2 separate regions of the Homo sapiens genome follow, and region 1 is linked to region 2. Evidence: fine-mapped expression QTL. Tissue or cell type: whole blood. Region 2 holds a variant in brackets; the other region holds the start of a gene. All regions are shown on one strand. Distances are between the middles of the regions.

Region 1 (8,107 bases), 64 kb after region 2:
CCTAAGATCCAGACCCACCAAAAAGAGCAATTATTTTTATTTACCCTTCCTGTAAGACCAAGAATGTAACCATGCCCGAACGGACTTTCACAAGATAATGTTCAAGTTAATCTCTGTTCCCTGATCTACTTACTCTCCCTAGTAATGAAAGGAGTTGGCCAGCTTGCTTTAGGCAGACAGTAAGGGAATGGTACCCAGAGAACCTCTGACCTGCCCCACAAGTGCTTACACCGGATGTTTTGTGCAGATAAGGGAACTTGCACAGGGGGCTTGCCTAAACATGCCTGCAGTGGATGATTCCTTTCCTTAACACATGCACAGTTCAGGAAATTAATCAATATGGAGTAGCTCAGTCTAAAGGCCTGCATGCACTGGTAGGACAGGGTGGAGTTGTCAGGAATTTGAGTCTTAAGCCCTAGTATTCAACTGTGAAGAGCAAACCAGAAATCTGCTTTCAGGACCCTTGTCTTTGCTGAGAGCTTTCCTTTCACTTAATAAATTCTACTCCACTCATTCTTTGATGGCTGCATGCCTAATTCTTCCTGGCTGTGAGACAAAAACCCGGACCTAGCTGAGCGAAGGAGCAAAAATCCGCAACAGTAATCCCATCAACAGAGTTTCTCTTCTTCCCCTCCCATAATCTGTTTTGCCAGGATAATATATAAGCTTTTAAGCCCTCTTGGGAAGTGGATAATCATTCTATGGTTCTCCCTGTGTACATGTTAATAAATTTGTGAGTTGATTTTTCAGCAAAGTTTCCCCAGAAGCCAAAGGGGAAATTTCCCTTGGCCCCTCCACTCTCTTTTCCCAGCTCTTCTTTTACTTTCGTTTTTATTTCCTCAGCCCAGTAGGTCACAGCCTTCTTTTTATTTCTTCTCTGTCCAAACCATCAGTATATCCTACAGGTGGGAGAGAAGCAGCTCTCTGGGAAACCAGTAAGCACCATGAGTTCTGATACTTTCTAGTACCATTTGACATATTAACATCCCCGCCACCCCTAATATGTATGGACACGCACACACATACCACATCACATGCATCACACTAACACAAACTATGTATCACATACCACACACAGCACACACAGTACCACATACCCCACACAACACCCACACCACACTACGTGCATCATGCACATATGTGCACACACCTCTTGTGATGTGTGTTTAGTGCAATTCAGAAAGTTACTCTTTGATTTAATGCACATCACTATGCTTAGAAATATTCTAGTTACTGGGATTCATCAGTGAACAATATTGAAAAAAATCCATCCCTTTGCATTCTCATGAGGGAAGCAAACACTAAACAAAATAAATTAGTAAAATATTCAGTGATAAGTGCCATGGGAACAAAATAGATTTGAAAATGTTTGGGAGGGAGAGAGGGGTACACTTGCTAACAAGTGGTCAGGATAGGGTTAGTTGAGAGGCAAAATCTGAAGGAGTTGAGGAAAGGCATTCTAGGAATAGCTGAGTGCTGACTCTTGCCCACAGTGGGAACACACAGTACAGAGCTTCTGAAGGAGACTCTAGTGACCTACTTCCCATTGTGAGTCTTTGGACTCCTATATCCCATAATCACAGGATCAAGCCTAACTTTACATATTAGAGATAATGCATTCCTCCTTGGGGATAGTTCAGGTTGATTTCTCCCTAGGCCTGCCTTTGTCAACATATTCCTGAAGTCTCATCTGCACCCCATCTCTGCTTCTAATATTGGCCACTCTGTGCATGAACCAGCCCCTCCTTCCTGCAATGGGAAACAGGTGTGAGATGGGACAGCTGTCACAATCCGTTTTGCTTTTGTCTTGCTGTTATTATTGGTAATGGTAGTTTGTTTCCTTTTTAGCATTCACTAGCTTCCTTTTCCTGATCCTTTGATAGTGTTACCAGAAAGGGGGTCCCAACCCAGACCCTAAGAGAAGGTTCTTAGATCTCGTGTGAGAAAGAATTTGGGGCAAGTCTACACAGTAAAGTGAAAGCAAGAAAGTAAAGGAATAAAAGAACGGCTACTCTACAGGCAGAGCATCAGCTTCTGGACTAAGGATACTGATATGGTTTGGCTGTGTCCCCACCTAACTCTCATCTTAAATTCCCACATATTGTGGGAGGGACCTGGTGGGAGGTAATTGAATCATGGGGGCAGGTCTTTCCCTGAGTAATTTATACTGCTGTTCTCATGATAGTCAATAAGTTTCATGAGACCTGATGGTTTTATAGAAAGGAATTTCCCTGCACAAGCTCTTTGCCTGCTGCCATCCATGTAAGACCTGACTTGCTCCTCCTTGCCTTCTGCTGTGGTTGTGAGGTCTCCCCAGACACGTGGGACTGTAAGAGCATGAAACATTTTTTCCTGGTATAAATTACTCAGTCTCAGGTATGTCTGGATCAGCAGTGTGAAAATGGACTAATACAGATACTTACAGTTATTTCTTGATTATGTACTAAACAAGGAGTGGATTATTCATATGTTTTCTGGGAAAGATGTGGGCAATTCCCAGAACCAAGCGTTCCTCCCCTTTTTAGACTATATAGGGTAGCTTCCTGACATCGCCATGGTATTTATAAACCACTATGGAGCTGGTGGGAATGCCTTCTAACTTGCTAACACATTATAATTCGTGTATAATGAGCAATGAGAATGACTAGAGGCCACTCTTGTTGCCATCTTGATTTTGGTGGGTTTTGGTCAGCTTCTTTACTGCAACCTGTTTTATCAGCAAGATCTTTATGACCTGTGTCTTGTGCCAACTGCCTATTTCATCCTGTGACTTACAATGCCTAACTTCCTGGGAATGCAGCCCAGTAGGTCTCAGCCTTATTTTACCTAGCCCCCATTCAAAATGGAGTCATTCTGGTTTGAACACCTCTGACAATAGGACAGATCTGGAATGAGCCATGCCTGGGTACAGAGTCACATCCACAACAATGAAAGTTGTAGATATCTGCAAGGACTCATCGTGGGACCAAGGATTCAGGGGCTCATTCTTTCTCCTCTCTCTGTGTGCTGGTTGCCTCAGGAGTAGAATGTCCCATGCTATGCATGGGGTCTGCAACCATCATGCCAGGGCATGATGAATCGTAGGTGGCAAAACAACAGAAGGCTCTGTGAGCACCCAGGAGGGTGCAGTGCTGAAGAGTCTTCTGCTTGGTATAGGAAGAAAGGAACGTGTTTCCCAATCTTGCCTTTATTTTGAGTAGTTGGACCAGAGGGATTGCAGCTGGGCCAAACTCCATGTTCCATTGGCTATCAGGGTCAGCAGGCAGGCCAGGGGCCCAGACAGGCCAGTGGCTCCCAGAATTCAAGTTTAATTTCTCCTCCCACCTGTGTCCTGAGCTCCCCTTACTGGTTCCCTTGGACCACTGCATCTACTTAAGCCAGCATTTATTATGTTGTTATCATAAATGCCTCTTACACCTGAGACTTATAAATGTGACAAGCTCTTATTGTGAGATAGTAATCCATCTTTTTTCCCCATGAAATAATAATTCTAACGGGTGGTGATAGTACTTTTCCTTTCATTTTGAAGTGGAGAAGCTGGAGCTAAGTCATTAAGGACTTGACCCTGGACCCCACAGCCTTTTCTCCACAAAGCACAAAGCAGAGTGATGGTCCCAGGGATCCCACACAGCTCTAAGCTGGGGGCACTCACTGCTGGGCCACTAGTGACTCCCATTTTCTATCCTGGCTGACCCTCGCTATTGAAGAAGATCTGAGTCCTGCAGAAGGACAGCAAGGAGAAAAACAAGACACAGAACGGGACAGAGAAGAATAGAAAGCTGACTCAGATGAATTTTGTGATGCCAATGAGTCCTACTGCTGTTACCACCCCTTTTTCCACCACACCCTTCAGAGCAGTTATAGAACCACAAGCAACCCATAAATAGCAAAAGAAGTAACATCAGCTAGGAAGGCTTAAGGACTCCCAAGGGAGTTGGTGGCAAAAGTAGAAAGATCTCAAATCAGAGTCTGTGAACTGAACCTCTGCAGGCTTCCTGTTTTTAGATACTCTGTGTTGGGGTCACATGATAGTTTACAGGGTTATTAATTGGTTCCTTCTTTTTATTGCTGTAAAAGAAGGATATTTTCTTCCTACGTTTCCCCCTCCTTTACCGGAGAGGCGGAGTGCAAATGATATGAACAACGTCACTAGTTTTCTCCTAAATCTTATGAGCCCCGCCTCCCACAGTAGTTTCACTTCTCAGTTTAATCCGGTCTGAGTTAACTTCCTGACCCAGGAAGTGGCAGCAACAGAGGGGACTAGCAGCGAATATGTAAGTGTCTGAGCAGTGAAGGTTACGGAAAAGGTCCAGGCTAAGGTTTTCTCAGTGGATATGTGAGTGTGTACTGATGGCAAGTGGGGTGGGGAATATATTTCGTGACAGCAGGGCCCCTCCAACTCTGAAAATGGTCAGGACTTTCTTTGTTTTACAGCTCTCACCTCTTTCCTGCTCTTTCTTTCACCAGACTTTACACCAAATCTCAGAAGATTCAGAACTTAGATGAGTGGGGCCCAGGACAGGAACCCTGGAGCCTTGGAAGGAGGGGAGCCCCATCTCCCCAGAAGAGCAGTGACCCCAGCAGAGAGGGGCCTGGTGTATCACTGGAGGAAATAGCCTGCCAAGGAATACACGTCTTCAGAAGAAATTCTGTGTGGCTTCAAGAGACTGATCAAATTGTGAGAGGAAAACAGCCTACCCGGTAATTGTAGTTAAATTACTGTTTTTTATTCTAGGCACTCTTCAAACTTCCTCCTGACTCTGCCCCTGTCCTAGAGGAGCTCCCAGGAGTAGGGGTGTGGGGGCGGGCGGGGGGGAGGGATCGGGGGTACAGGGAGAGCCCAGCTAGGTTCTCAGAAGAGGCAGGCTTTTTCGCTCCTGGTCACTCCTCTGTTGCCTATCCCTGGCCTCCCCCATCTTCTTTCTGCCTTCCCTACCTCCTTGGGTCTGCAAACTCTTTATGTTGCAATCACTCTGAACATGTCTCTTGAGATAGGTCCTGTCCTGGAGAAGAGATAGTAAAAGTAAACTCCCCAGTTCTGCAGGAGCTCTGATCCCATAGAAATAACTGCTCCTCAGGAGCAAACCCTCTGCTCTGCAGCCTTCTTTCCAATTCTTATTCCCTCAGTTTAGGGAGAGGGCACAAAAAGGATAAACCGGTTCTTCTGGTTGTTCTGGTTGCCTTGATTGCTTCCATTATCCTCCTGGTTGGGTCTCTAGCAAGACGTTATTAGCCAGGGAAGTCCCACTTAGGCACCCCTCTCTGCAGAAGAGGTATTCACTATTCTCCTTTCTCTTTCTTTTGCCTATTATACCTCTGCTCCTGAAAGCAAAAACAACAACAACAAAAACACAAACAAAAAACAACCGACCTTATTAACCAGTGTTGGTTGTTGTTCTTTGTGGGGGATGGGGGGGGTCGAGGTGGAGTCAAATTTTATTGTCATGATGGTGTAGGAGCCAAGGGAACACTTCCCCTTTGCCTTCTGAAGTTCACTGAAAAATCGACTCACAAAAGGCAGGCTAATTGGAGAAAAGGCATACAAATTTATTAACAAGTACATGGGCTAGAATCACAGAGTGATTACCCCCTCTGCCAATGGGGGTAGATACTTATATAGCCTTATTTATAAATACTTATGTATAAATACATAAATATAAATATGTATGCATATGTATGTATGTATAAATATGTATGTATACTGTATAAATATGTATGTATAACGTTTATACATGTATACATATTTATTTCAGAGGGGAAGGGTGATATCAGGAGAATATAGGTAATTCTTTGAGGGGCAGTAAATGATTACTAGGGAGAATAAATGAATATTTGGGAGGATGAATGAATGGAGGAACAGAGTTTAACTTGTAAATGGTTCTCTTTGGAAAATGAATGAGCCTGAGAGACAGACATTATTTTGTGAAAGTGTCTGATTAGGTCTGGTTACATTCTTAGTCCTCTTTTCTTCAGTACAAAATGAGATAATAGGGGTTGGAAGGAAAAACAATTGTTCTTCTTGTCTAGTGTGACTGGTCTTTATGTAGATAGGGGAAAAGTCTCTTCCAGCATCTGCTGATCTCTAAGGGCCTTTAATTCAAAATACTCATTATACCAGGGAGTCATATATTGGGGTGAAGCTCCCCATACTCCTTCAATGGAATCTGTCACAGATCACCCAATTGCATAAGTGTTACTACTAATTACAAAGAGTAATTCTGGTACCAATTATTCTTTTTTTTTTTTTTAAGACAGATTCTCGCTCTTTCACCCAGGCTGGAGTGCAGTGGTGTAATCTGGGCTCACTGCAACCTCCCCCTCCGGAGCTCAAGTCATTCTCCTTCCTCAGCCTCCTGAGCAGCTGGGATTACAGGTGTGCACCACCACATCTAGCTAACTTTTTGTATTTTTAGTAGAGATGAGGTTTTGCCATGTTGGTCAGGCTGGTCTCAAACTCCTGACCTCAGGTGATCTGCCCGCCTCGGCTTCCCAAAGTGCTAGGATTACAGGCGTGAGCCACCGTGCTGGCCTGGTAACAATTATTCTTGAAGTTAACTAGAATAGGAAAGAGTTTCACACTCCCTGAGTTCTCTCTTTTACAGCTTTTGTGAGGAAGCCTGCATTGCTTCTCCCAGCACTTGGTCCAAGGTAACTTTCTGTGATAACAGAATGTTGTATATTGAGGCTGTTATGTAGCCACTAGTCACATGCAACTATTAAGCAATCAAAATGTGGCAACTGGAACAGAAAAACTGAATTTTTTCATTTTAATTTTTATTAAGTTAAATTTAAATTCCTACTCATGATAGTGGCTACTGTATTAGCTATACAGCTAGATGTTTGTGTATCCTCTAAATTCCAATGCATTTCTTCTTTCTGGAGAGAAGACTTTAGCTGGACATGGTGGCACATACCTGTAGTCCCAGCCACTCTGCCAGGGTGAGGCAGGAGGATTGCTTAAACCCAGGAGGTCGAGGCTGCAGTGAGCTGTGGTCATGCCACTGCCCTCCACTACAGCCTGGGCAAGAGAGCGAGAACTTGTCTTATAAGAAAAGAAAAAGAGGCTGGGCACGGTGGCTCATGCCTGTAATCCTGGCACTTTGGGAGGCTGAGGCGGGTGGATCACAAGGTCAAGAGATCGAGCCAACCAACATGGTGAAACCCCATCTCTACTAAAAATACAAAAATTAGCTGGGCGTAGTGGTGCACACCTGTAGACCCAGCTACTACTCGGGAGGCTGAGGCAGGAGAATCGCTTGAACCCGGGAGGCGGAGGTGCAGTGAGCCGAGATAGCGTCACTGCACTCCAGCCTGGGTGACAGAGTGAGACTCCGTCTCATTAAAAAAAAAAAAAAAAGTTAGAAGACTGAGAAAAGAAAAATAATGAAATAATTTAGAGCAGTCTGAGCTATGTGAGGTATGCAAAATTTATCAGGACAAGTGAGGCAGGAGTATAGGTCTTCAGTTAAGACCCCATGTTTAAAAGCATTTTGTTCCTGACTGGCTGCCTCATCTATTACCTACATATTCCCGAGATTTGTAATACAAAGAACAATGTATAGCCAGTCAAAAGCTTATGCTATTTTAATGTAAATTCTTGGCAAACAACTTTAAAACTGCTTTAAAACTGCTTTTTTTCCTCTAAACAACCACTTGTAACTGCTTGCTAATGAGGGCAACTTGAAACTCTGCACTTGGGTTGCAGTTCTCAAACGTGGCCCAAACAACCTCAGCCTCAACTTCTTCCTTTTAGGTCCTCTTTTCTTCAATACAAAATGAGATAATAGGGGTTGGAAGGAAAACCTTCAAGACCTATGGAAGTCAGTTGCAGCCAGCTCATCACATAGAGGTGCAGGTGAGGTGTATTTTCATCACGGTGGAAAATTCTGGCTGCTTCATCTCCATCTCTAGAGCCAATATTGGAGCTTTTCAATAAAAGCTATGGCCTCAACCACCAGCACCAAGAAGATGATGGAGGAAGCCACCTGCTCCATCTGCCTGAGCCTGATGACGAACCCAGTAAGCATCAACTGTGGACACAGCTACTGCCACTTGTGTATAACAGACTTCTTTAAAAACCCAAGCCAAAAGCAACTGAGGCAGGAGA
Region 2 (8,107 bases):
TCCCTCTCATTCTCTCTCCTTTCCTTTTTCTTTCTCTACTCTTTCCTCACTCATGACCCCAAACGGCTCTAATTTCTGCTGTTTTCTTGCCCATCACGTTCCTTCAGTTAGTCTTTTCTAGGAGAGAAAAGCCCTTTGCCTGGCAGTCTGGAGTGTCATCCTTATATCTTTACTATAAGAGAAGAAGAGGTATTTGGGTTCAGCCTCCAGATCAGAGAATCTCCTGAAGGACTTTTATTGGCTTAACTCTGGTCACTTCCCTAATTCTTGAACATATCATCCCAGCTGATGGAGGTAGAGTTCTCCCATTGGCCAAGCTTGTAGGAACCTTTGGTAACTTGGAGGGCTCTAAGACCATAAAACAAGAGTTTTCCAAAGCACTAATTATGTCTCACTAGTGAAATCAATTTGAATTGATATGAACAATATATTTTTTAAATGAGATATATAATAGGATAAATCAAGGCCTTATTCAATAAAATTAAAAATTTCAGAGTGTATTTCACTCTGAAATAAAGGTAACTGTTTTGTAAGTATTCTATTTTATTTATATGTGTTTGTGTTTCTGAGTATGTCCTGAGTTGCACGATAATACTATATTTCTTATTGGGTAACATTGTCAGAAAAGTTTCTAAAAACTTTCTCTGCTGCACTTATTTTATACATTTTATTTATGTTAATAATCTCACATTTAACACACTTATGATTTATTCTCAACAGAAAAAGGTGGTATTTCTTTCATTTAGTCTTTTAAAAAGCTCACATTATCAAATGATTGCTCAATCATTTAATCTCTTTGCTTCTCTTATATGCATTGATTTAATAAATATGTATACTAGTTTCTCCATCGATTCTTTAGATTTGAAACTTATTTTCCTTTTATTCTTACAAAACTGACTTGTCTATAGGCCCACTTCTACTTCCTTTATTCTATCATCTTCCTCAACTTATTCTGTGGTCAAAGAATGGAGAAATAATATTAATAATATGTTTTTCTCATCAATGACTTCCACCTGTTCTCTGAGAAATTCAGCTTCAAGAACTTTAGTTTGATATGACTGCAAAGATAATACACAGTCTAAATCATAAAAATGTCTCAAAGGTTTTTTTTTTATTTGTTTCTTTGAAATATCCATGAACAGGCATGTTTCTCCCCTGTAGTGCAATTTGTGTGAAATTCTGGCATGCACTTAAGAGGATGTCCTAAAATACCAATATTTAATTGATTCTAAGTCATGTATTGTATCACATTTTTGCCCATGGATTGTTGAAATCCATGGACAAAACTGATAGCATTTTAGAACTTCCTTTGTCTAGTGGCAGTCTTGATATATTCACACTATCTATTGACAAAAAATCTAAAGCACCAGGCTCAAAGCTTGTAGAGTAGGTGTCAGTGATTTGGAGGACATCTCTAGGGCAATAGTAGAGGCATTTTTAACCCCTAACAACTAAATGATCATCAGAAGTGAGTGATATCCTCACTCATGACCCCAACTGCTCTAATTTCTATTGTTTTCTTGCAGAAATGAGAGCAGGTGGGGTCATGGGTGAGGAATGAGGTGTTGAAAGTGAATGGGGTGTTGAAAGCAAGGTGTTTAGCAGTGTTCTGAAAGCATACATTTAAGTAGGCTATCCGGGCACTGTCAATAGCTAAGTGTCAAGCTAAGTACTCTATTTTATTCTAAGAACTATTTTTAGAAATGCTGAATCAACAAATCTCAGATGGCACAGAGGTTGTCATTTTTGAATAATATGAATATCAGTAATTTTAGTTGGAAAAGAAGATTTTCAAAGAGCCATCTAAGTTTCCAAAATAAGTGTTGCAGTCATATTAACTATTATATTTTCCTGCCTGTTGATCTACTGCCTGTGAATTGCTTATCAAACCAACAACCAACTGGAATACATAGACTGCATGTCTTGTTCATTTCCTGCATTCTCAAGTAATGGTTTAACAAACTCATGAGCTTACTCTTTAATCTGAACCATGCTTAACTTCAATTATGTTGATTTAGTCTAAGGATGCAGAATTTATTTTATAGTTATGTAGGAACTGGAATCCAAAATGTAATATGCCTCCAAGCTTTTCTTTGTTGGCCTCTGAAGGAGCATCACCTCTACAACTTCAACGTTGTTATGAATACCTCTGGGGAGGTGTTCACCTCAGGACCCAAATTTGGAAAAAGGGAAGTGCCACTTTGGAGGAGTGCTCTGAGCAGCTGATCCATTAAATGTCCCGATCACATGCACGTGGAAGTGTCATTGCAATATCTGCACTAACAGAAGCTCAGTGACTTGAGAAGTGAGTCTGGAATTCTAAGAAAAAGGCAAGGCATCTCTCTTGCCACTTGTTATTTTTCCAGTCAAGCAACTGTGATAAGAGGGCATGGAGAGCAGGAAGAAGTGAAAAATCCCAGGAAAGTCTGGAGTGGAATCATTAAACCAATTCTGCTCCCTCTCTAGGCCAACTTGGGCCTATTATGAATAAGGAGGTCTCTTATAATCCATCTAACTCCACTCAGGAACAATTTGGGGATCTGAGACTGTGAACTCAGTGGGCAAAAAAATATTTCTTGGCCTATCATTATTCTCTGTAGGATGTTAAGGACAGGTTTCTGTATGTGGAGTCCTCAGTTTTTGCCTTCTCTCCTTGAGATATTTTTATGCTATTTAGTAATTGATGGCCACAGTTGATCGACCACATTTCTGGGCAACTCTAATAATCCTTGTTATATTAATCATTGGACCAATCTTGATTGTGTATGACCATCATCTTGTAGCTACCACCTCTATGTGGATGCTCTCCTCACCCTGCTTAAGTGCCAATGTCTGTGCTATGGGCCTACCTGTCACATGGATAATCTCTTCACTCCAGTCAGGCTCCAACATTAACACAGGGCTGTTCTCTTGTCCCCCTTTGAAGACAGCTTCATCACCCTATTCAAGTTGCAGTACTCTCACTGGGCCTCCACTGTTGCCTCTCTCTCACTCTGCTTAGGTTTCTTCACTCCACTCCAGGCAACTGTCACTAAACATCCTTCCCCCATATATACACAGACATCTACCTTGCTTGGCCAAACCCACTGGATTTCAGACTCACTCATTCAGAGAGTAAGACAGAGAGGGGTTCATTTTTTATTTTATTTTATTTTTTATTTTTTGAGACGTTGTCTCACCCTGTCGCCCAGGCTGGAGTGCAGTGGTGCAGTCTTGGCTCACTGCAATCCCCACGTCCCAGGTTCAAACGATTCTCCTGCCTCAGTCTCCCAAGCAGCTGGGATTACAGGTGCCTGCCACCATGCCCAGCTAATTTTTGTATTTTTAGTAGAGACAGGGTTTCGCCGTGTTGGCCAGGCTGGTCTCGAACTCCTGACCTCAAGTGATCTACCCGCCTCGGCCTCCCAAAGTGCTGGGATTACAGGTGTGAGCCACTGCGCCCAGCCGGGGTTCATCCTTAATACATACATTAGAGATATAGATTCTGTTTTTATCTAAAAAGTCTTTATAAGGCCGGGCGCGGGGTCACGCCTGTAATCCCAGCACTTTGGGAGGCCGAGGCGGGCGGATCACGAGGTCAGGAGATCGAGACCATCCCGGCTAAAACGGTGAAACCCCGTCTCTACTAAAAATACAAAAAATTAGCCGGGCGTAGGTGGCGGGCGCCTGTAGTCCCAGCTACTTGGGAGGCTGAGGCAGGAGAATGGCGTGACCCGGGAGCGGAGCTGCAGTGAGCCGAGATCCCGCCACTGCACTCCAGCCTGGGCGACAGAGCAAGACTCCGTCTCAAAAAAAAAAAAAAAAAAAAAAAAAAAAAGTCTTTATAAAAATCTGATTGAATGGTTGAATGCTGTGCTAAAATCTGCATAATATCTTACAACACTTCTGTGAATCACGAGACAGTTTTGAATGCTAAATGTCAGTTAACAGATCTAAAGGGACCAACATCTGCTTTCCCAAATTATATGAAAGAAGATCCTGATCCCTCATCAGGTGAAACTCACATCAGACAACAGTGTCTGCATTTCTCCAAAACCCGCCTCAGCCCCATGGCCACTTTCCAGGGTTATCCTGCCTACCAAGCACTCTCTTTCCTCAGAAAAACTTGGGGGAAAATGTAGAATAATAATTTTTTGAAGTTCTGACCAACTTCTTGAATCACTCAGCATGTTTTTGACTGCAGGTACAGAAAACGCTGACTCAACAAATTTAAACACTATATAAATTTCTTATCTCCCCAAACAGGACATCAAAGGCAGAAAGGTTCCAGAGCAGGGTGATCAGAGCTCTGGCTCCACTGCCCTCAGTCTTCTTGCCTCTGCTCTCCTTCACAGCAGGCTTTACCCCCCATGCTGGTCACAGTTTCAAGTGTCCATGCAGACACAAGTTAAAGGCAGGAAGAAACAGTGCGTTTCTCTTGGAGATCAAGGAATGCCTTTCCAGAAAACTCCCCCTTATGTCTCATTTGCCAAAACTTGGCCTAGTCTCAGGTGCTGCCTGAGCTAATCAGCTACAGAAGAAGGGACCACATGACTGGTGTGGACCAGTCAGAATTCACCACATGAAGCTAGTAATGTGGCTCACACTTCCCAGGGGGATATGGCCAGGTAGCAGACAGTGGATCGCTGAACAGAATACTGATAGATTTCAGCACCAAGGTTAGAATGGCTACCACACCTAATCCCACCCTATCCCCGTTTCCTTCTTTAATTTTTTCCATAGCACTTATCAGTAGCTGACAAACTGTATATGTTTTTACTTTTTTATTGTCTGTAGCTCCCAAGTAGAATACAAACATCTGAAACTCACTGTATCCATCCTGAGTAATGTTCTTTTCAGCTCAGTCACAATCATTTTTTGATAGCCTATCCTATAAGCTTAACTTATAGTGTTAATCAGTATTAATACATCTTAGTGGGAAAGAAGGAAAAAATAAACGA[TCA/T]CACACACACACACACACACACACACACATACATTTACGTAACAGAGCAAGTGTGAAAATACCTAAAGGCTTTATAGCTCCTTTTGTCAATGGATACATGACAGCATTTTTGGCATTCTTTACTACTCTTATTCTATGCTCCATTTGTCTTCAGTCAGCACCTCAGCTGCCCTTATGTTTTACTTGGTAAGGCAAATTCCTAAATGAGCCTGGTAATTAGTCATCCAGCTTATAGGAAGGTACTATAGTTTTTCATTAACTTTTTCACTGGGCTTGAGAGTAGTAAGGACTCCCAGAGAATTCCTTGTGTTCCAAAAGTACTTCTCCTTGACATCTTGGTATAGGATTAATAACTGTTTACCTTTGATAATCAGGAAGAATGACTCCAGCTAGTACAGTTACGTGATGCCTATACATTCCTTTTTTTCTGGGAAAAATGTAATGTGAAATTAAGTGCAAAAACCATGCCTTGTTTATGTATGTATCAAACACTTCTAGAGCTTTCCCAATACAGTTCTCTTCTCAGCAAACAAGAGGACTATACCCTCATCCCCACCCCTGCACTTAGGTGTAGCCAATGTGTTGTAACTTAAAGAGGAGAGGGCACTGGATGAAGGGAAATCTGTCTAACAAGCTTCTTTATTTCACCTAGTGGAAAAAAGCCTTAATCTGCAGTGGGGCAGTTTTCAAGGACATAGACTGAATTGGCTCATGCATTTATGGAAGATGAGGAGTCCCATGATCTGTAATCTGCAAGCTGGAGACCCAGGAAAGCTGGTGGTATGATTCAGTCTGAATCTGAAGGCCTGAGAACCAGAGGAACTGATGATGTAAATCCCAGTTCAAGAGCAGGAGACCAGATGAGATGTCCCAGCTCAAGCAGTGAGGCAGAAAAAAAGGCCCAAATTCCCCCTTCCTCTGCCTTTTCTTCTATTCAGACCCTGAATATCAGGTGGCATAATGCCATCCACACTGGGAAAGACAGTTTACTTTACTAGGATCACCTATTCAAAGGCTAATCTCATCCAGAAACACGCTCACAAACACAGCCAGAAATAATGTTTAACCAGATAGCTGGTTATCCCCTGACTCAGTCAAGTTGACACAAAAAATGAACTATTTCAAAGCTTACTGTAATCAACAGTTTTGTCAAAAAGATAGACACAAATCAGTGGAATGAGATAAACAGTCTAGAAATAAACCAACAAAAATATTGCCAACTAAGGCAAAGGTAATCAATGGAAAAAAGATAGTCTTAGCAACAAATAGTACTGGAACACCACAATGTGTTAATAAAGTGAAACTGGAGACATCTCTCACACCTTATACAAAAGTAACTAAAAATAAATCAAAGGACTAGATGTAATGTATCAAACATTACATCTTTTAGAATGTATCAAACATTACAAGCTTTTAGAATAAAATATAGAAGAAAATTTACATGATCTAAGATTTGGCCCCAATGAAGTTTTAGCTATAATAACAAAAGTATTAGTCATGGAAGAAAACAAAATTGATAAGTTCAGGTGGGCTAAATTAAGGGAAAAAAATCACTTTGCAGTAGAGAAACCTGAAACATTACCTAAACCACATGATGAAGGTTAATATCAGTGATGTCATGTGGATATCATGTTCTCCCTAAAATGATGTGACAAGAAGGGCCCTTTGCCCTTGTGGTATTATTTCAAAAAATCTATAACTCCGGTGTAATTATGAAAAAAAAGCAAATGATCTTCAGGACTGTTAAGGTCATGAAAAGCAAGAAAAGACTGAGACATTGTCACAGACAAAAAAAGACTAGGGAGATATGACAAGAAAATGCAGTGTGGTATTCCAGATTGGACCTTGGAACAGAAAGAAAACATTAGTGGAAACAGTGGTGAAATCCACATAAAGTCTAGGGTTTGGTTAATAGAGTTTCATGTATCAATGTGAGTTGCTTATATTTGACAAATGTATCATAATAATGTAAAATCCTAACAATGGGGGAAAGCTAGGTGAAAGATATATGGGAACTCTCCTGTACTGTCTTTGTACTATCTTTGCAACTTTCCTGAAAATCCAAATTATTCTAAAACAGAAAAGTTCATGCTATTAGAAGTGAGGATAGAGGTTACCTTGAAGAAGCTGAGGTCTAGAAGAGACCATGAAGGGTCTAATTAGCTAACACACGTTGAGTATCCCTTATGCTTAGAACCAGAAGTATTTCAGATTTTTTCAGATTTGGAATGTTTGCATTATACTGAGTATCTCAAATCCAAAAATCCAAAATCTGAAATATTCCATGAGCACTCCTTTGAGAATCATGTTAGCATTCAAAAAGTTGCCGATTTTGGAGCATTTTGAATTTCCAATTTTTAGATTAGGAATACTCAACCTGAGTAGAGGCTGCCTGCTAATTACCTGGGAGCTAATTACATGGATATGTCATTTTGAGAAAGTTTAGCTTGCTGATATGGATGATTTTCTGGATAAAAATTATACTTTGATAACAATTCTTTTAAAGGAGACAATAGTTATTAACTTTTAAGTACTTTTTAGCTCTACAATTCAGAATTCTTTAGTGCTAAATATTACATATTTTGAAACAAAAGTTTTGTTTATATTTATTTATTTGTTTCCCCCCCCCTTTTTTTTTTTTTGAGACAAGTTCTCACCTTATTGCCCATGCTATAGTGCAGTGGGTGATTATAGCTCACTGCAGCCTCAAACTCCTGGACTCAAAGGATCCTCCTGCCTCAACCTCCCAAGTAGCTAGGAGTACAAGCATGCACCACCATATCCAGCTAATTTTTGTTTATTTCTACAGAGGCAGGGTCTCACTATGTTGCCCAGGCTGATCTCAAATTCCTGGCCTCAAGTATCCTCCCACCTCTGCTTCCCAAAGCGCTGGGATTACAGGTGTAAGTCATTGCACCCAGCCAAAAGTTTTATTTTAAACTTATTATTATGAGCATGTAACAGATTTATGTGGTTTGAAATTCAAACCTACAAAAGAAAATAATAAAAAGCTAACAGATAGACAAACAAAAACAAAAGCAAAACCCCACTTGGCCATGCTCTCTAGTTCCTCATTTCTCTCTTGGAAGAAACCAGAGCAATGTTCCCTGTGTATCCTTCCAGAGATAATTTTTTAAAATACTTTTTTCTTTTTAACAGAAGAGA

What was found. PIP is the estimated chance that this variant, and not a neighbour inherited with it, causes the effect.
Region 1: TRIM38 starts here. The variant in region 2 is fine-mapped to the expression of TRIM38 in whole blood (INTERVAL, PIP above 0.99).

The regions. Positions count from the first base shown.
Region 1 is chr6:25,958,582-25,966,688 of GRCh38, forward strand. It overlaps TRIM38 (tripartite motif containing 38), which reads left to right and starts at 4,221. Exons shown (of 8, transcript NM_006355.5): 1 at 4,221-4,274; 2 at 4,468-4,701; 3 at 7,754-8,107. The coding sequence starts at 7,942. RefSeq lists a cis regulatory region at 89-393.
Region 2 is chr6:25,894,261-25,902,367 of GRCh38, forward strand. No RefSeq gene overlaps it. Among named protein-coding and RNA genes, the nearest start is that of SLC17A3, 24 kb to the left of the region's middle. RefSeq lists an enhancer at 3,856-4,445. The variant TCA/T (reference allele first, on the strand shown) is at 4,941.